3 linked regions of the Homo sapiens genome follow. The main gene of each other region encodes a partner of the protein of the gene in region 2 in a complex. Links are inferred from orthologs where the notes say so. Each region holds a gene or a part of one and is shown on either strand. Other genes may lie near its edges.

Region 1 (7,035 bases), on a different chromosome or scaffold from region 2:
GTTCCAGGGATTCCTGGGGCTGTGATTCAGTCTATCATGGTAATAATACCATGAACTGACAGAGCATTCAAGGTGAAGAGCAGGTTTCATGTGGTGGTGGGGTAGGGGACAAAGTTAAGTTTGGCTCTGAGAAGCCTACAGGAGATGTGAGCCCCAGTGTAAGCAGTGAGTCTCTGGAGGGCGAGGGCCATGTCTTATTCTGTATCTCCATGAGTGCCTCATTTAATTCCTTGTACAAAAGTTCATTAACAACCTGTTAAACTGTTTCCAAAGGCTTCTCTGGTACACAGCTCAGGCTCCTGGTATCTCAGCCAGGTTGATTTCATTACCTGAAGTTGACCTAATACCAGCATGCCACCCTTGCCCCCTATAAATTTGTATTTTCTTTTTTTTCTTTTTCTTTTTTTTTTTTTTTTGAGATAGGATCTCACTCTCACTCCTAGGCTGGAGTGCAGTAGTGGTATGATCATGGCTCATGGCAGCCTTGAACTCCTGGACTCAGGAGAGTGATCCTCCCACCTTAGCCTTCCAGGTTGCTGGGACTATAGGCACATGCCACCATGCCCACACCCAGCTAATTTTTTTTTTTGAGACAGAGTCTAGCTCTGTCGCCAGGCTGGAGTTCATTGGCGATCTCGGCTCACTGCAACTTCTACCTCCCAGGTTCAAGCGATTCTCCTGCCTCAGCCTCCTGAGTAACTGGGATTATAGGCACACGCTGCCAAGCCAAGCTAATTTTTGTATTTTTTAGTGGAGATGGGGTTTCAGCTTGTTGGCCAGAATGGTCTCTATCTCCTGACCGTGTGATCCGCCCACCTCGGCCTCCCAAAGTGCTGGGATTACAGGGGTGAACCACTGCGCCTGGCCTAATTTTTGTACTTTTTGTAGAGATGAGGTTTCACCATGTTGCCCAGGCTGCTCTCAAACTCCTGTGGTCAAGCAATCCTCCTGCGCCAGCATGAGCCACCACGCCCGGCCAAACTTGTGTTTTCTGATAAAATGTGCAATATCACAAGGTCCTAAATTTCACTCCTGATTCTAGGTCATCTCCAAGAATGGCTCTGGCCACTGTTACATGCATGGGGTGTTGACAACATGCTAGTATCAGTGATCTGGTTGCTAATCCTTAACAGTGCTCCACTGTGCTTACAAAAATGCCTTGAGGGTTGGGTGTGGTGACTCATGCCTGTAATCCCAGCATTTTGGGAGGCCGAGGCGGGCAGATCACCTGAGGTTGGGAGTTTGAGACCAGCCTGACCAACATGGAGAAACCCCATCTCTACTAAAAATACAAAAATTAGCCAGGCATTACAGGTGCATGCCTGTAATCCCAGCTACTTGGGAGGCTAAGGCAGGAGAATCGCTTGAACCCGGGAGGTGGAGGTTGCGGTGAGCCGAGATGGCGCCTTGCACTACAACCTGGGCAACGAGTGAAACTCTGTCTAAAAAAAAAAAAAAGAAAAAAAAAACAATGCCTTGAAATACAGAAATACATACATATATTTTTTTGAGACAGGGTCTCACTCTGACACCCAGGCTGGAGTGCAATGGCACAATCATGGCTCACTGCAGCCTTGACTTCCTGGGCTCAAGCAATCCTCCTACTTCAGCCTCGCAAGTAGTGGGGACTATACAGGTGTGCACAACCACACCAAGCTGATTTTTTTTGTTTTTATTTTTTGTAGAGATGCAGACCCACTATGTGCCGGGAGGCTAAACTTAAACTGGGCTCAAGCAATTCTCTCACCTTGGCCTCCCAAAGTGCTGGGTTACAGAAGTCAGCCATCACACCTGGCCACCTTGAAATAAATAAATTCTATCTATCTATCTATCTATCTATCTATCTATCTATCTATCTATCTAGTGTCTTACTCTTTCACCCATGCTGAAGTGCAGTGGCATGATCACGGCTTACTGTAGCCTTGACTTCCCAGGCTCAAGTGATCCCCGCACCTCAGCCTCCTGAGCAGCTGGGACCACAGGCACATGCCACCATGCCGAGCTAATTTTTTTTTTTTTTTTGTAGAGACAGGTTTTCGCCATATTGCCCAGGCTGGTCTCAAACTCCTGGGCTCAAGTGATCTTCCCACCTCAGCCCTGTGAAGTGCTGAAATTATGTTGAAATATTTAGAAGCAAAGTTTGTCAAACTTTCTTTTTGCCTTTCCACAACTAGATTAGTTACCACATAACACTAGGGTTTTAAAGAAATTCTTTTTGGCCGGGCATGGTGGCTCATGCCTGCAATCCCAGCACTTTGAGAGGCCAAGGCAGGCGGATCACAAGGTCAGGAGTTCAAGACCAGCCTGACCAACATGGTGAAACCCCATCACTATGGGGTTTTGTAAAAATACAAAAATTAGCCGGGTGTGGTGTACGCCTGTAATCCCAGCTACTTAGGAGGCTGAGGCAGGAGAATCACCTGAACCCGGGAGGCGGAGCTTGCAGTGAGCCAAGATCTTGCCACTGCACTCCAGCCTGGGGGGCAGAGCGAGACTCCATCTCAAAAAAAAAAAGGAAGTTATTTTTAAGTTTTCACTTTAGAACAAATTTAGAATTGTAGAGAAGTTATGAAGATAGTACAGAGTTCCTGTGTGTCTTTCACCAGTGGCCCCTAATCTTAACATGTTAGGTAACCATGAACATTTGTCAAAATTAAGGCATTAATGCTGGTATATCGCTGTTAACTAAATTCCTGGATTCTCGAGGTTGAGTGTTAGAGCCAGAAAAATAAAAAAGTAAATTCCTGGCTTTATTCAGATGTTGCTAGTTGTTCCACTGATGTTCCCGTTCTCTTCAAGGATCCAATCCAGGATGCCACATTATACTTTCAAAAAATTAATTAATTTTAATTTTTTTTAAGAGTCAGAGTCTCGCTCTGTCACACAGGCTGGAGTAAAATGGTGTTACCATAGCTCACTGCAACCTTGAACTCCTGGGCTTAGGCAATCCTCCTGTCTCAGCCTCTGATTAGCTAGGACTACAGGCATGCACCACAAGCCCAGCTAATATTTTTTTTAATTTTTAGTAGAGACAGGGTCTCCCTATGTTGCCCAGGCTAGTTTCCAACTCCTGGCCTCAGGTGATCCTCCCACCTTGGCCTCCCAAAGTGTTGGGAATACAGGTGTGAGCCACCGCATCTGCCCATGCTGCATGTAAATAAATTCTTTTTGAAATCGTACATCTTTTCCTTTCCAAGGCAACCTTCAAAAATACCTGTTAAACATTAGTCTTTAAACAACATGCTTCATGTAGGCAGAACTCAGGCGACAGCACGACCAACGCTCACTGGGCTCAGACCAGGGGTCTTGTGACAAAAAACCTACGAACTCATGATGGTGGCGCCCTCACTGCTTGGTCACATTGCTCTTCAGCAGCTTCTGCAGCTTTCTTGGGCTTGGGAAACTGCACTCCTGGACTCATGTCTACCATCCTCATTGTTGGCAAAACAATATTTGAACCGAAACTCACCTGCATCCTCTTCAGTGGGCTGATAAAATGGAAGTGGCACACCCTAAAAACAGGGGAAAAGCTCAAGTAAGGTCTTGCGCCAGGCATCACCTTGGTAAGGAAAGGGGAGGGCACCAGGTTGGGGGTGGTGCAGGTGTGTGATGGGAGGACAGTGGGGAGGAGCGAGAGGGCAGGGGAAGGATGTGCCTCTGTCTTGCTCCCTGGATCTGATGGGACCTGCCATTTTTCTATACTGCTCAGAGGGCAAAGAAACCCAGGTAATGGGAGGTCACTACTCAATTGTCATAAAATACCCAGCAACAAGTGGGAGCAAAACAGGTGCCTAAAGTATCAGTGTACTTCTAGGCAAGGATGGGAGAGAATGGTTTCTTGCTACTTTTCCTGGCATTCTACGAAAATCTCTGGAGGATTGTTGCCTAGAGCAGGGATAGGTAACCTTTCGGCCTCTGGGCCAAATTTGGCTGCAGCCCACTATTTAAATAAAGTTTTATGGGAACACAGCCACAGTCATCTGTTTAAGAGTCCTCTATGGCTGCTTTTGTAGACAAAGGCAGAATTGAGTCATTGTGACAGAGACCATATAGCTACAAAGTCTAAAAGAGTTACTGTCTGGCCCTTTATAGAAAGGGTTTGCTGACCCCTGGCCTAGGGGTGGGTTCCCACTTACAGATGGAGAACTGACTAACAAATAAATGGGCTCCTAAAAAGGACCAGTTTCTAGAACAGACAGCTTCCAGACATACTTTGTCTGAAGCAAACCAAGAGGCAAGTGGGGGTACTGCTGTGTACCTCGTAGAGTTTGGTGGCAACAAGTTTCCTACCAGTGGTGTTGATTCCTTCCATAATTACAACCTGAAAGACAAAAACAAACAGGATTGCTAAGCAGTGGAGATCAATGAGGTCTGGAATACATTATTTTGAGGCAGTTAAAAGCATTGTCCAACTACTCTCATTCTGTAATCATAAACTTAGGGCATTTTTGTAGAAAACGAATTAAGGGCGTTGCATTAGTAATAATAATTATGCTCTATATAAGTGATCTAATTTTCACAACAATCCTATGAGGTAAGAATTATTATTTCCATTTTGTGAGTGAAGAAACTGTAGTTTAGATGGTTAAGTACCTTGTGCACAGTCATGCACCTCATGGAGCGGGGAGTTGGGATTTGAGGCTGCGCAGTCAGGTCCCAGAGCCTGGGTCAGAGCATGGGGGAAACAGGAATCCCAACAGTGGTGTCTGCTCTGGGGCATGTGCTCCAGCTGCACCCCATGGCAGCAGAGACAGGAACTGAGGAGCAGCTGCGCATGGCACAGCACCTACACTACAGGGGTAAAGAGTGCGCCTGCATTCTGGTGGAACTCCTCCAATCTCACCTGTCCAGGAAACAGAGAATATTCCTTAAGCTCAGATAAATCCACTGGAATTTGAGCACCCGAGGAATGTTCCCGGTCTCCCTCGAGAATCACTGACTTGTTGTTCAGCTTCCCGTTGCTATCACAGCCAATCTGGCCCAGCAGAGTGACAGGCTCCTACCAAAGGAAGGTCACAGCATAAGAATGACAGTCTTTGGAGCAGGAGCTCAAAATCTGAAGTCGATAGGGTGAATAGCAAAACAAACTGCAAACAACAAATACATTTCTTGGCAGGGCATTGCTTTGACCCTGAGGTGACTACCGCGTCATCACTGACTCTCAGGATGGAAGAACTCTGAAAGGGCATCTTGTCCACCCATCCACCCAGCACTTGAGCCTTCCTAGGAGGCTGCCTAAGTGTGAGCATCTCTAGTGTAGGGGAACTTGCCCCTGGATGCCTACCCCACCCTGTCCTCACCACCCCAGGGCAGCCCACTGCATCTTTGGGCAGCTATAACTACTTAATAATAGCTAACATTTCTTGAGCTTACTAAATACCATGCACTGTTCTAAAATGTATTCTTAGGCATTTTATATGTATTAACTCATTTAATCCTTGCAACAACCATCGGGTGGATATTACTGTATCCATTTTACAGATGAGGAAAACAAGCAACAGAAAGGTTAGATAATTTAGTCAAGGTCAAACTGTGGGTGAAGCTTGGGTTTGAAACCAGAAATTTGGCTCTAGAGCCATATCCTTAGCCACATACCATACAACCTCTTAACAGGAAGTTCTTTATTAATTGAGCTAAAATCTCTGTCTCCATGGCTTCCTCTGTTCTGTTCCCACTCTTGGGAGAAAACAGAGGAAGTCTCATCTTTCCCAGTGATTGTGCCTCCCTGCCTTCCCTCAATTACTTCCTTCCAAGTCCTCTAACACTTCCTTCTATGACACAGTTCTGCATCACTTCCCCAACTGATCATTCTTTGAATGTAAACATTGACAAAGGTACTTTAAAGAAACTTCTAGAATATATTTCCCCTTAGATTAGAAAACATTCTAGAGAGAAAGCACTGGTATATATGCCAGATTAAACTATGATATAAAGATACTATTGGCAGCAGTTTGTCTATAACAAGAGACCAAACCAGGGGAGAGACTGTGAGTCATTGTCCAGAGAACAAGATTCTGAAAACCCCACCGTCGCTGCTGTCCTTTTATCTCGATACGTGAATGCTTCTATTTGTGGGAAATCCCCGGGGAGCTACCTGACTCACCACCAAGGGAAACAAGGCCTTGAGTCTCTGCTTATGTGCAAGACTCTAATCCAAGTGGGAAGAAAATCACTCTCTGGCCACAAAACCAGACAGCACTTACAAATCTTTCTTCAGAAGGGCCCATTTTCCCAAATTCAACCAAGACAGATGTTCAAACTAGAACACAGACAAGAAGTGAAAAAGGAAGCAAGAAGGATGCCTCTTGGTCATCGATTTAAAAACGTAATATTAATTAGTGAGAACTATTAGAACAACTCTTACCTGTGCTGGGGCTAGCAAAGGAGTGAAAGCTTCAATCTTGTAATGTTCCTTGAGTTCGCTGCCAAGTTCTTCTATCTTACAGGTCAGAACTACAATCCCAGAAGTGGAAAAAAGTATTATGTTTAAGACATTTCACTTGCCAAGAAGAGAAAATACAGCACATTGTAAAATATTAAAGTCAGTCATTTTACAGAAGCAGGAAGGGTGCCTGGACATCTGGCCAGTTTAAACCTTCTAAAACCTTTGCCAATTTTCCGATATTTGGTTGCTGAATCTGGCCTTCCATCTGGCCACAGGAGACCCCATAGCACAATTCCAGGGAATCAGCATGAACCCCACCCCATCTCCAAGTCTGCCCTTTACTCAAGTCCTCACTGAGGTTTTAGGCAAGTCAAGGCCAACCTGAAGAAGGCTTCTAACGAAGGAACCATGAATATCTTTAAGTTGAATTCCTTTACATCGTTCAAGTTTTTGCTGCTGGGAATGGTTATGTGCGTTTTAGCAAAGTGAAGTGACTTGGGGCAATCACTGATAGTATTGCCCGTGTCCCTCCATTACTAGGGCTTCCATGAGGACATCTACCAACTCATACATTGAAAGGCAACCTTGGAACTTGTTCTACCAGCCTAGCTGAAGCTTTGTTACTCTACACCCTTCTAGGTGGTTTTATA
Region 2 (6,604 bases):
GATGCTGCTGGGCTCTTGGCTTGGCTCTCTAAGTCAGCAAAGCACGTAAGAAACCATACTTCATCTCTTAAATGACCTAAAGTCACAGAAATTCTGAATGCTTCTCAGAACATTCGACCAAATATCATGCTGTGCACTCCTGAGCTGGGTTCTGATAGAGGTGGCTATGAAGAAACTGGGCTGAGGTTTGAAAAGGGGATGGCCTCTAGTCATATATATATATATGTGTATATATATGTGTGTGTATATATATATATGTGTGTGTGTATGTATATGTATATGTATATGTATATGTATATGTATATGTATGTACGTGTGTATGTATTTAGAGGTGGGGGCCTCACTATGTTGCCCAGTCTGCTTTGAACTCCTGGGCTCAAGCCATCCTCCTGCCTCCACCTCCCGAGTAGCCAGGACTACAGGTGTGTGCCACAGCAACTGGCTCTACTCACATTTTACTCCTTGCTGCCTCTCTAGTCAACTCTTTGCACCTGGTAAGGATTCACCACAACTGCTTTCCCTTTAGAAAACTTTATTCTTAAGAAGAAGGCACAACATACTTTTTCTTTTATAAAAACACACAGGTCAATGTTTTTTAAAAACACAGCATAATTGTACAAGGGGAAACATTTTGTTAGTATAATCTTACCAATAATGTAAGAGAGGAAAGACTGCCATACTGAAATACATTTTGCTGCTGCCAAAGACGGTCCTATTGTGAAGAAATGAGAAAAAAATAGCAAGCGCCAGGGCCAATTAAGCATCCCTCTCCCCGTTTTTCTGAATACAACACAGTGATCCTCACCGTAACCCCTACACATGTTAATGGATTGTTAGAGTATCAAATTATTTTCAATGTGCTTTCTTGTTGTATAAACCTTTACCTGCACTTTCTATTTAAGGGGCAAAAAGGGAATGTGAGTGTAAAACACCTGCTCAGTGTGTGTCTGTTGGACTTTGGAGCAATTCAACAAACAAGCCTGCTCTGTTTAATCTATTTAGTGAGTGCAAGGCTTCTAAATCTTCCCCCTCAGCTACCTATATAAAAGACAAGACTGAAAAGGACAGCCACTCCTGGATGGCTGGAGAAGCATTTGGATTTAGACCGGGTTTAATTGGCATATGAAAAAGCAAAACGTCAGCTCTTCAGTCAGGCTCTGAGAAGCTCTCTTTATGTGGGGGGGACATAGGCTAAAGGCCCTGAGGCAAAGCCTGGGGTCACTTACATTCCAGCTACTCTCAATCCAAGTAGCAATTTCCCTCCCTCAGAAACCGGGTCTTCAGGAGCTTGGGGAGGGGAGCTTGGGGAGGGGCTCTGGAGTTGTGTTTTAAAGCAGTACATCTTAATATGAAGACAGGAATTTCTATGATGCTTACGAACATTAGACTCAACATTTTTGCAGCCCCCTTTCCTGGTCTACATTCACACAAACATGAGACACAGTCCCAAGGGAGAAACAGATGCTGGAGGAGCATTTAGGGCCAGAGTGGAGGCACAGAGGAAGCTGGGATTTTTCAACTACCCCCTCCTTGGTTACTCCTGGGATTCCCTTAGGATTTCACGGCACAACCAGCGAAGAGTTTGCTCAGATTCACTTCGGAGTAGCCACTTCGGGACAAGAATTGCTCTGCTGTGTTCTTGAGTTTTCTGTAGTCCTGCAGAACTTTGGGGGTAAAAAATTGCTTCTTCAATTTATCTAAAAAGAGAGAGAGAGAGATTAGAAGTCTCAGGTAGTTTCTTTAAAGAACATTCAGTATTCCACCAGAGAAGGGGATGCTGATTCCATTTGTATCTCCACCATCTTATCTCTGGTCTACCCCTGGGGCCAGTCAGATGCAGCCCCCGCCGACCATTCCTCTGTGAAAGCTTTTCTTCCTTTCCCCTGTCTGTCCGCCTCTCAGCACCTAGCTGACTCAGTGCACTGGGGGACAGGGCCACCCTCTACTGATGTGAACTGCAGGTGCACCCTCATGTGCAGCAGACAAGGTGAGCTCTACTCGCAGACGCCACTTTCACCGGCGCTGCGAGCACATGCATGCAACTGCTTGCGAAGTCTGGACGTGGCAGGAAACACCTAGTCTCAAAGGGAGCTATGGCCTCTGGTGCCTTCCAGCCCCAACTCCCCAGATCAGCTGGGCCTAGTAAGCATTTTCTAGTCCCTCCAGCCCAAGTCCCTCTGCTAAACAAAATTTCCTTTGCTGAAAGAGGCGAGAGGTGAGCGGCCCCGAGGGCACCTGTCTGTCCATGGCCAAGATTTCTTTGCTCTTCTTTGTCCACACTGTGTGAACTCAGGGTATGCGGCACTCCTGCTCCTTTAACCCATTCATCCCTGGCCTTTCCCTTCTGAGCAGGATGCTACCAGCCAGAGAAAAGACCCCTCTCCTTTCCCTTCCCAGAGCCTGCTACTTCTACATGTTGTTTTTTTTCTTTCTTTTTTTTTTTTTGAGACAGAGGTTTGCTCTTGTTGCCCAGTCTGGAGTGCAGTGGCGCGATCTCGGCTCACCGCAACCTCCGCCTCCCGGGTTCAAGTGATTCTCCTGCCTTGGCCTCCCAAAGTGCTGGGATTCCAGGCGTGAGCCACTGCGCCCGGCCCTACATGTTGTTCTTTTAAAGGAGCAGTGGGGCTGTGATGCTCAGGTCTGATCTTTTGGGTGAAGAGAGTGATCACGTGGGGGATGACGCTGTGTTCAGGAACCTGGTAAGGTGTCTGGAGAGGCTGCTTTCCCCGCGCCCCCCCCACCCCCAATCCCCATTTGATGGCTGAGGAAACTGGGAGGTTAAGTCACTTACCCAAGGTTACACAGCAGGTAATCAGAGTTGTAGACACGCAAACCCAGGTAGCCAGAACCCCCAGCCCGCACCTGAGGAGAGGCTCACTTCTGCCCACTCCCCCTGCCACTACATCACTACTCCCACATAGAAATTTGCAGGCCTCAGACATCAGCTGATCCTGAGGTGAGGCCTCCGCCCCCATAAGATGCTGGCCTGTGCCAAAGGGCCTGGGAGCAGCAAGGCTGCCCAGCACCTCCCGATAGGAACCGGTCAGGAAGGAAACACGGAGGGGAGAGCGCGCCACTCACAGAAAGCAAACCTCCAACAACAGCAACACGGGAAGTCTACAAAACACCCGGAAAACGAAAACTCAGACTCCAGATTTTTGTTTCTTGGCTATACATTCGCATTTGCTCTCCACAACCTTTTCTGAATTACATAAGTTGTCCTTTAAAGAACAACCACAGGTTTTATAGAGAATTAAAATGCCCAAAAGGGGTGGAAAAAGAGAGGGGGGCTGCAACAGAAAGACAATTTGAAAGTTCTAATGATCTGAGTCTGGGAATAAACAACAATGGCCCCAACCAGTGTCGGCTGCCTCCCGGCAGGCCAGAGCCACAGGCCAGCAACCCCGTGCATGTGAATGACACAAATGCATCTGATGACTGGGGAGAGCACATTTAAAGAGCTGCGGTAATACGGAGCAGGGGAGGAAAAGAGAGGACATAGCTCCTGATGTGTTTACCTCCTCTGCTGATGGGATATTGACTTTTCCCACCAGGTTGGTTAGAAAGGGGACTATTTACGCTGCCACACAGCAGAGTTAGAATGACAACCAGCGTCACTCGGTGCTCTTCCTCCTAAAAGACAACTGTGACCGCCAGCATATCCCATAGCCAGTCAATACGGCCAAGGCACCATTCCACGCCAGTTAGAGATGCAGATAAAAGCTCCCACTTGCTTCCCCAAAGAGAATTTAATCAATAACATATGGAAGGTCTTCTAGGAAACAGAACTGGACTAGCTGTCACAGGCTGCGTCAGGGACAGGGGCTGGTGGGGGGAAGGAGTCACCCCTTCCTGGTTTTTCTCTTCCCCCTTTAGGCACCTGGGCCACCCACGTTAGGCCTCACATTAAACTGTTACCCTGTTTCTGTCAATACTATATCCACCACTTTAGAACTCAAGGGAAAATACAGGTGTTAACTGGTGGAGGCCAGTTAATGTGGCCAGTAAAACCCTGATTCCTTTTCCTGCTTTGATTTTGAGAGTCAGCCTATCAGTAACGACGCCATCACCTCAGGTGCTGCAGGTCAGGTGCCCAATAACAACTGTTAAAAGATTCCAACATGCCATTAGGCAAGAGCCAGAGAAGATCCGCAGCCATCCCATCCCTGTCCACAGAGATGCCACTGGCCCTGGTAACTGCTGTCTCCGCCACCAGCACCACAAAGCCAACCTTTGTCGAGATCGGGGAGGAAATGCTCTTCCTACACACAAGTGCGTCACTGAAATATACTCTAATGGCTTGAAGTATCACCCAGAAATCACTCATCTTAATACATCAGCAAAGCTAATCTCCTTTTTAAACTTTTCTTGAGAATAACATTCGAGGAACGTGTATATAAAGCTTATTTACTCTGATCCTTTCTACATGCTCTGATTCCCTGTGGTTATATGTTAATTACCAAAAATATTCTGTCCCTAACCCCTATGAAAACGATGGAAAAAAAGGGTAGCCTAGATACTAATTATTCACAAAATATTTTATCAGACTACAAAATGAACTGCTCATTTAAAAGTTGATTTCTATTGATTAGAATCTAAAACCTCAAAATAATGAAAGTTACATTCTTTTCTATATGGGATGAACTAGACCATCATCTGTAGGTTGACCTTTCTTAAATATTTTATATAAAAGTCAACTGATCAAATAAAATGCTAGCTCTATTAAAATAATGGAGTATTCTCCCATCTAAGGAAACTAACTCTACTTCACATATTTTAGTTCCATGTCAGTAAACCAAAAATCTCTTTTCAACTTTACTCTTTATAAAACCCTTTTTGGACTTAAAGAAACACACTGAACTAGAAACCACGAGGCAAAGACATTTTAACATCGCCTACTGGTTATTTTCTTTTAATTAAGGCAGGCTTAGGCACACAGGCAGCAGCCGTCTCTGTTCTGAATGTCTGTTTCATTTATTTCTGTACAAAGGTATCAAACAACAGTCAGTTATAATTGATTCTGTCAGGTGTTATACAGTCAGTCATAATTGTCTCTGTGTAGAGGTGTGTCAATTTACTATATCTGAATTAAATATTCTGTCAATTATGAAATCAGGTAATAATTTCAGTCAGTTTTTTAATTGCATGGCTTCCCACCATACAGTTCTCAGTTCTCCCACCTTTTCCAATCCATAGCCTCCCTCCCTCAATGCAACGTGAGCTTTGCAGTAAGGGGTGGAATGCAGGAAGCTTTAGAAAAATTTGAAAGAAAACTGCACCCCTCTACGCTCTCTACACGTAGAGCCATCCGACCTACAGAGAGCTGCTGGAGCCTCTGGCCTGCCTTTTTCCTGAATATCGATCCATATAACTGAGCTTCCGGCTATGCACAGTACCTGAAAGATTTCAAGTGACATCCATATTTTAAACTCAAAGACATTTAGGGCCCCAAATCAAATGGCAAGTACATAAACATTTCTCAAAGTAAGAAATGAAAAGAAATAATCTTTGAGTCAATTCTTATTTAGAAAAAAAAAATTCACAAGGCACAGTGCCAGGCACACACAGTGATCAATGTGTCTATCAATTAGCCAATGCCTAGAGGACCATTCTCACCCATTAAATCACATCTTAGATGCTAAAATATTTCTGAAGGCTTGAAGAGTCTGTTAGTCCACTATCCAGTTCCATTCCTACTTAGAAATAATTATCTTCAGTTTTCTTTCTTTTTTCTTCTTTTATGTTGATACCAAAATACAGCCTTCAAGAAGAATAAAATATCCATGGTTTAGCTCAAGTGCTCTACTAGGCTGTAGGCTGATCTGACAAGTATTTAGAAGTGTGATTATAATTCTCTCCACCATTGGTCTGGTTCATGTTCAATAAACACAGGCTTGCTGCAGCCTGGTGGTGGTGAACAGTGACCCTTCACACTCAAAGCAAATGGAGGTGCCATGGGGCCCAACTACCAGGAAGGGTTGTTCAGTGGAAGTTTGGGGAAGAGCAGAGGCCGATGCGAGAAGGGAGGAGACAGAATAAAGCAATGTAAAGAATGCCACTTCTATAGACAAGAATAGAAGGTAAGAGTCGTGCCCCTTACCATGTTTCAGTGGCAAAAGAGTCACCTTGAAAGAGATAAAAAATTTCCTTTCAACTGGATGAAGTGATTCTCTCAGGGTTGGGTTTTGGGTGTTTGCATTTGTCATGTCGGAAGAAAATTGCCCATGCAGCCCCCTTGCTGAGGTTATAAAAAGTACTGTCAACCATACTGGACAGAATTTTTTTTTGGGTGGGTGTGGGGGGGGAGGTTGTAGAGAAGGAAAAAAAAAAAAGAAACACATTGTGCAGGATCATTAAGCACTGTTGTATAAATAAAGTTAGAAGATCAAACGAAAGAGGGGACTCGGGTTAAATGCTGGAAGACAAGCTTAAATAAAGTTCTAAGAAAAAAGCAAGGCACGCTGTAATTCCAAGAACCTATTACTTCAGACAATTTACTTCAAAAAATAAAATCAGAATGGTAAATGATTACCAAAAAGCAATCATGTCATCATCACTGAGAGATGGAATAAAATAATTTTTTGTGAAGTGGCTGAATGAGAGC
Region 3 (4,756 bases), on a different chromosome or scaffold from region 2:
GTAGAGACGGGGTTTCACCGTGTTAGCCAGGATGGTCTCAATCTCCTGACCTCGTGATCCGCCCGTCTCGGCCTCCCAAAGTGCTGGGATTACAGGCGTGAGCCACCACGCCCAGCCCCTTAAATATTATATCTTAAAGTTAAGTCATTTAAATGCCATTTATTAGTTAGGGCAGGGTCTTTTGAGTATCGTTTAGTGTTTGGAATTTGATTTTATCTTTCTTTTATAAACTATACCCATAATACAGCATCAGCAATTTCCAGTTTGGATTCCTTAAAGTAGAAAAGGAACTTGATATATGCAAAGCAATAGGATCTTTCTCCCTCTCCTTCTGTGACTTTCACCTTTTTTTTAAGTGACTTGCTTTTCTTGACTCTTTAAAAACATTTTATTTAGATTTCATAGAACAATTTTTTTTAACATTCATTTTTATTTACTTTTCCCATGGCAACCCTATGACCTAACACTGTTATCTCCATTTCATAGATGGAGAAAATCAGACTTTAAAAAGATTACCCTATTTTGTGCACATTGAAGTCTAATAAATGTATTGCTAACTGACAACTTGAAGCGAGGTATAGAAAATGCCAAGATATTATTATAGCATAAGATACTAGGTTATTTTTGCATGAAATAGTACAACTATGTTTTTCTAATCTTTGTAGCCAAGTTTATCTCTAGAAATAAAATTTATAATGGAGATATCATTATCAGTATGATTTTGCATACAATCTCTTAAAACAGATTTCAGAGCAACTAATGATCTAGTCAGAAGGCCTGAATTTTAATTCAGACAAAACCAGTTACTAATTCTATGACCTTGAATAAACCATCTATTCTCCTTAGGCCTCTGTACATGGAGGAGATTGAATTTAATGGATTCCCCAAGGTCTTTCTAATCTCTGATTCTCTGTTTACAAACTATTTTACAAACTGTAAAGCCTTCTGATTAAAATGTATTAGACAATAAACATACTTTTTGTGAAACACATTGCAAAATGCAAAATTTATATTGGATTTCCCAGTTTTTAATGAATTGGGTGAAAATTGAATGTAATAAAAAAGTTCACAAATGATTCCATTGTTAATAAAAATTATAAAACATTTCAGAAACATTTTGAAATCAAGCAGCTAAGTTAAAAAAATGAAGCAAAGATAAAAATTTGTTCTTAATGATCTATAACTCTTAAAATCAGTCTGTATACTATCCATCTGTTACACACTGGAATTACTATAAAATTAGCCTAACATGTATTAACAACTAGCAAAAGAGAATCAGAGATTCCTAGGGTGCTTAGATAAGTATTACCAGAAAAGACTCATGTTTCTGTCTGCTGGTCCGTCCACCAGTAGGGTTCATTCTAGACCATGGCAGCAACCCCTTTTTCCCTGGCCAATTCATTTTAATCTACTAAAAGATTATACATAGCTTTAATCACACCACGTCTCTTTTTAAGGGTTTTTGGTGACTCTGTGTTGCCTAGAGAATTAGGTCTTGACCACTTACCCTGATTTTCAAGGCTCTCTCAGGCTGGCCCCTGCCTGTCTTTCCAACCTCATTCCTTATTGTTTCCTTGTATGTGCCTTTCATAGTAGGCTATGTGAACTATTTAATATTTGCTTTCCCAGGACATTCCCTCTTTACCTTGCTCATGTGGTCCTGCTGCAAATATTGCCTTTCCCCTCATCATCCCAGCTTTTCACCCTCTCCATCTTTCCAGACGCAACTCAAATAGCACTCCTCTTACAAAGCCTTCCTTGATCTCCTCAGCCGAAATTTCTCTCTACTGTGGAGTGTAATAGGCCTTTATCTGTGACCCTCATCAGTTCTCCATTCTTGGTAGAGGTTTTTAAGTATATGACTTACTGGGTTGGAAATTTGAGTTAGTCAAATGTATTCCTGTATGCTGAATAGTGAATAGTTTATAACACAGTCTTTTATATAGTAAGGCTTTAATTAAATATGCAAAATTATCACTGGTATACACTATTTCTGGGTTCACTTCACCAAATATTTATTAGATACCTACAGTGTGCAAGTCACTTCAGTACGAAGAGTGAGACGTAAAAGGATTAGTTAATACAAGACAGATGAACAAAAGAAATGGAATAACTTCTCAGTTTCCAAAAACTTGATAAATGAAAATACCACCCAAGAAACCAACAGTCACTCACTCAAGCAAAATGATATTTTTGTTGTCAACTCCAACTGCAGAAGGCGAGAAGGCAGGGATTTGAGACTGTGGAAAGTGAAACTGAATATAAGGAGAGATTACTAGAGTGCATAATTTGAAATGATACTCAAAATTAAAGTTTAATGATAGTATTTGAGAAAAAATAACATAAGTTATGAACCAGGCATGTTTGTATTCAGTCACAGTGAAATTTACAAGAAGAGATTTTCTGTAAAAAGACCAAGGAAAGGCCAAGATTAGAATGAAGAATTACATTGACTTAGGTTGCTTTTTCAGTTTATATCATACTAAATGAGTGCATATGCCAGACTTACAAGTCAGCTCTAAAACACAAGTGGTATCAGGGACCAGTATCAAAATGATCAAAAATGATTTTACGATCACTTAAAAACCCACAAATATTTACTGGCCTACAATGTGGTAGGCCTTTTGCTTGGAACTGGGGATACAATAATGAATCACACAGGTCCCTAACCTGTGCCTCACTAACATACAATGTCATTCACACACACACACACACACACACACACACACACACACACACACACACACATTTGTATTCCAAACATATTTTTATAGTTTTCTAATTTTTTGTTTTGACGTAATTGTCAACCAGAATTGGTAATGTTTTGGGTATTGCCAGAATTGAGGGCTTGGTGTAGATGGGAGGTGGCAGGTGGGAGTTGGGGGCTGGGGAGGTGAGAGAAAGGTGTCTAGTATGCCCCAAGGATGAATGGTGATACCAATCACTGAGAGCAAAGGATGGGGAGAGGGGAAAGGATACGTTTCCTGTTGGGTTTGAGCTGCCTTTGAGCCATCTTAGATGTTGAGTAGGTGTTGGATATGGGACTGAAACTAGATAGGGAACTGGAGCCAAACACAGAGGCTCAGACTAGAAATATAAATGTGGGAGCCATTTAGGTTTGGGTAGTGGTTGAAGCTCTCTTTGAATGAAATGGTGTAAGTAGCTGATTAAGTGTTAGAATGCAAACAGCTAGAATCCATGTTTCAGGTATTAAGTTTTAAACAAGTACTAAAACAGCTTTTGAAACTCATATATTTATAGCTTTGCCATGCATTAATGCAATATAAATTTCCTTCCTTTACAGGTGGATGATTGTGGCTTTTCTTTGAATCATCCTAATCAGTTCTTTTGTGAGAGCCAACGTATTCTAAATGGTGGTAAAGACATAAAGAAGGAACCTATCCAACCAGAAACTCCTCAACCCAAACCAAGTGTCCAGAAAACCAAGGATGCATCATCTGCTCTGGCCTCTTTAAATTCCTCTCTGGAAATGGATATGGAAGGACTAGAAGATTACTTTAGTGAAGATTCTTAGGCAGTTTTATAACCCTTTTTCCTCAATAGCCTGTTTCCTGTTTTTAAGATTTTGCCTTTGTTGTTGAAAAAGGGTTTCACTCTGTCACCAAGGCTTAGTGCAGTGACACAATTACAGCTGATTGCAGCCTTGACCTTCCCAGCTCAAGTGATCCTCCTACCTCAGCCTCCCAAGTAGTTAGGACCACAGGTGTGCACCTCATATCCAGATAATTTTTTTCAATTTTTTTTTGTAGAGGTGGGGGGTCTCCCTATGTTGCCCAGGCAGATCTCAGACTCCTGGGCTCAAGCGATCCTCACACCTCAGCGTCCCAGAGTGCTGGGATTACGGTTGTGAGCCACTGTGCCTGGCCTTTTTTTTTTTTTTAACCTTTTTGTTTAACTTCTCTCTTCACTGCATCCCAATCCATCTACAGGCATGCACACTTATTAGGAAAGGAGGTTTGAGGTAACAACAGAGACTTTCACTATATTTTGCTTTGACAGAAGGAAAGAGGAGGAGTTTCTATTAAAATCTGTCACTTGAGTGATGTCATTTAAGTCCTATTTTAGGAGATAAAAACAGCTTTGGGGACTGGTTAAAGTCCCCCAGAAACTACAATAAAGAACAACTTTTGTTTTAACTCTTAATCACTTTGTAATTTTGACTCAATCCTTTTCTGGACCATTTTTGTTAATAAATATCAAAGTGTACATGACAGTGTCTGCGTATAATTGGGAGAGTCTTATGTCGTAACAGATTGGACATTACTTCAGTTTTAAAATGGTAATTTGGAGTATCCAACACACTGCTGATCACTAATGAAGATTTTAAACTTTTCTTTACCTTTTTTTAAGAGTTGACCTATTTGTGGTTATTCTACATCAGGCACCTTTGAGTGGCACCAGACCCTCCTGAGTGAACTGTGACTTGGGAATTAACATAAAGTATAGCCAGTTATATTTATTAAGGAATAATAGGGATATTTTATTATGTAAAATAATGGCACGTCTTATCTGCTGCCATTACTCTGGGGACAGGTTCATGAAGAATAGACAATTACCAAGCAAGAAGGTTGTACATATAAAATAAAGTGTTTATTTTACCCTCCAACTTCCATACCTTATTACTTCTGTAGTTGCTGTGAATTACCAAATAGATTTGGTAAATTAAATTAATTTACTTGAGCAATGAATAGTGATACTTATAGTAACCCCCTCCTTTCAGTGCCAGCAATAGAAT

What was found. Proteins that work in one complex are often made in the same cells at the same time.
Region 1: the proteins of POLA1 (region 2) and POLA2 are in contact, whole or in part, in a cryo-EM structure (PDB 8G99), measured with the Xenopus laevis proteins. The link is inferred for Homo sapiens from one-to-one orthologs. Residues at the interface, in NP_001082055.1 of Xenopus laevis: Gln548, Lys551, His553, Gln554, Asn555, Phe642, Glu645, Val646, Gln649, Asn652, Leu673, Gly675, Arg676, Phe679, Lys1137, Asp1141, Pro1143, Asp1144, Ile1321, Gln1322, His1324, Asn1325, Lys1326, Leu1328, Leu1329, Arg1332, Ile1335, Lys1336, Tyr1338, Tyr1339; in XP_018112289.1 of Xenopus laevis: Met280, Tyr281, Lys282, Phe283, Met284, Phe285, Gln286, Lys287, Leu288, Met289, Ile291, Arg292, Val295, Ser296, Ile299, Glu314, Thr316, Leu320, Pro321, Gln323, Glu324, Thr325, Val326, Gln331, Gly333, Cys334, Asp335, Ser336, Asn337, Gly338.
Region 3: the proteins of POLA1 (region 2) and PRIM2 are in contact, whole or in part, in a cryo-EM structure (PDB 8G9F), measured with the Xenopus laevis proteins. The link is inferred for Homo sapiens from one-to-one orthologs. Residues at the interface, in NP_001082055.1 of Xenopus laevis: Leu842, Lys853, Ile894, Pro895, Glu896, Leu971, His974, Arg977, Glu978, Leu981, His982, Glu985, Gln988, Lys989, Asn991, Glu993, Asn1007, Asn1009, Arg1101, Asp1102, Glu1106, Gln1109, Glu1221, Asp1224, Gly1225, Asp1227, Ala1229, Leu1230, Met1233, Trp1234; in XP_018121015.1 of Xenopus laevis: Pro34, Pro35, Thr36, Glu37, Asn38, Ile39, Ser40, Leu41, Ile42, Phe44, Glu45, Ile49, Ile107, Phe110, Ile111, Leu114, Cys117, Gln118, Ser119, Glu120, Asp121, Arg123, Ala240, Arg241, Leu243, Val245, Val246, Gln247, Arg251, Leu252.

The regions. Positions count from the first base shown.
Region 1 is NC_000011.10:65,278,956-65,285,990, reverse strand, and holds part of POLA2 (DNA polymerase alpha subunit B), read right to left. Parts: intron 6,454-7,035; coding exon 6,365-6,453; intron 5,000-6,364; coding exon 4,844-4,999; intron 4,322-4,843; coding exon 4,259-4,321; intron 3,513-4,258; coding exon 3,470-3,512; intron 1-3,469. UniProt on the Homo sapiens protein: Accessory subunit of the DNA polymerase alpha complex (also known as the alpha DNA polymerase-primase complex) which plays an essential role in the initiation of DNA synthesis.
Region 2 is NC_000023.11:24,990,898-24,997,501, reverse strand, and holds the end of POLA1 (DNA polymerase alpha catalytic subunit), read right to left. Parts: intron 1,698-6,604; coding exon 1,552-1,697; 3' UTR 516-1,551; downstream 1-515. UniProt on the Homo sapiens protein: Catalytic subunit of the DNA polymerase alpha complex (also known as the alpha DNA polymerase-primase complex) which plays an essential role in the initiation of DNA synthesis.
Region 3 is NC_000006.12:57,642,624-57,647,379, forward strand, and holds the end of PRIM2 (DNA primase large subunit), read left to right. Parts: intron 1-3,304; coding exon 3,305-3,535; 3' UTR 3,536-4,227; downstream 4,228-4,756. UniProt on the Homo sapiens protein: Regulatory subunit of the DNA primase complex and component of the DNA polymerase alpha complex (also known as the alpha DNA polymerase-primase complex) which play an essential role in the initiation of DNA synthesis.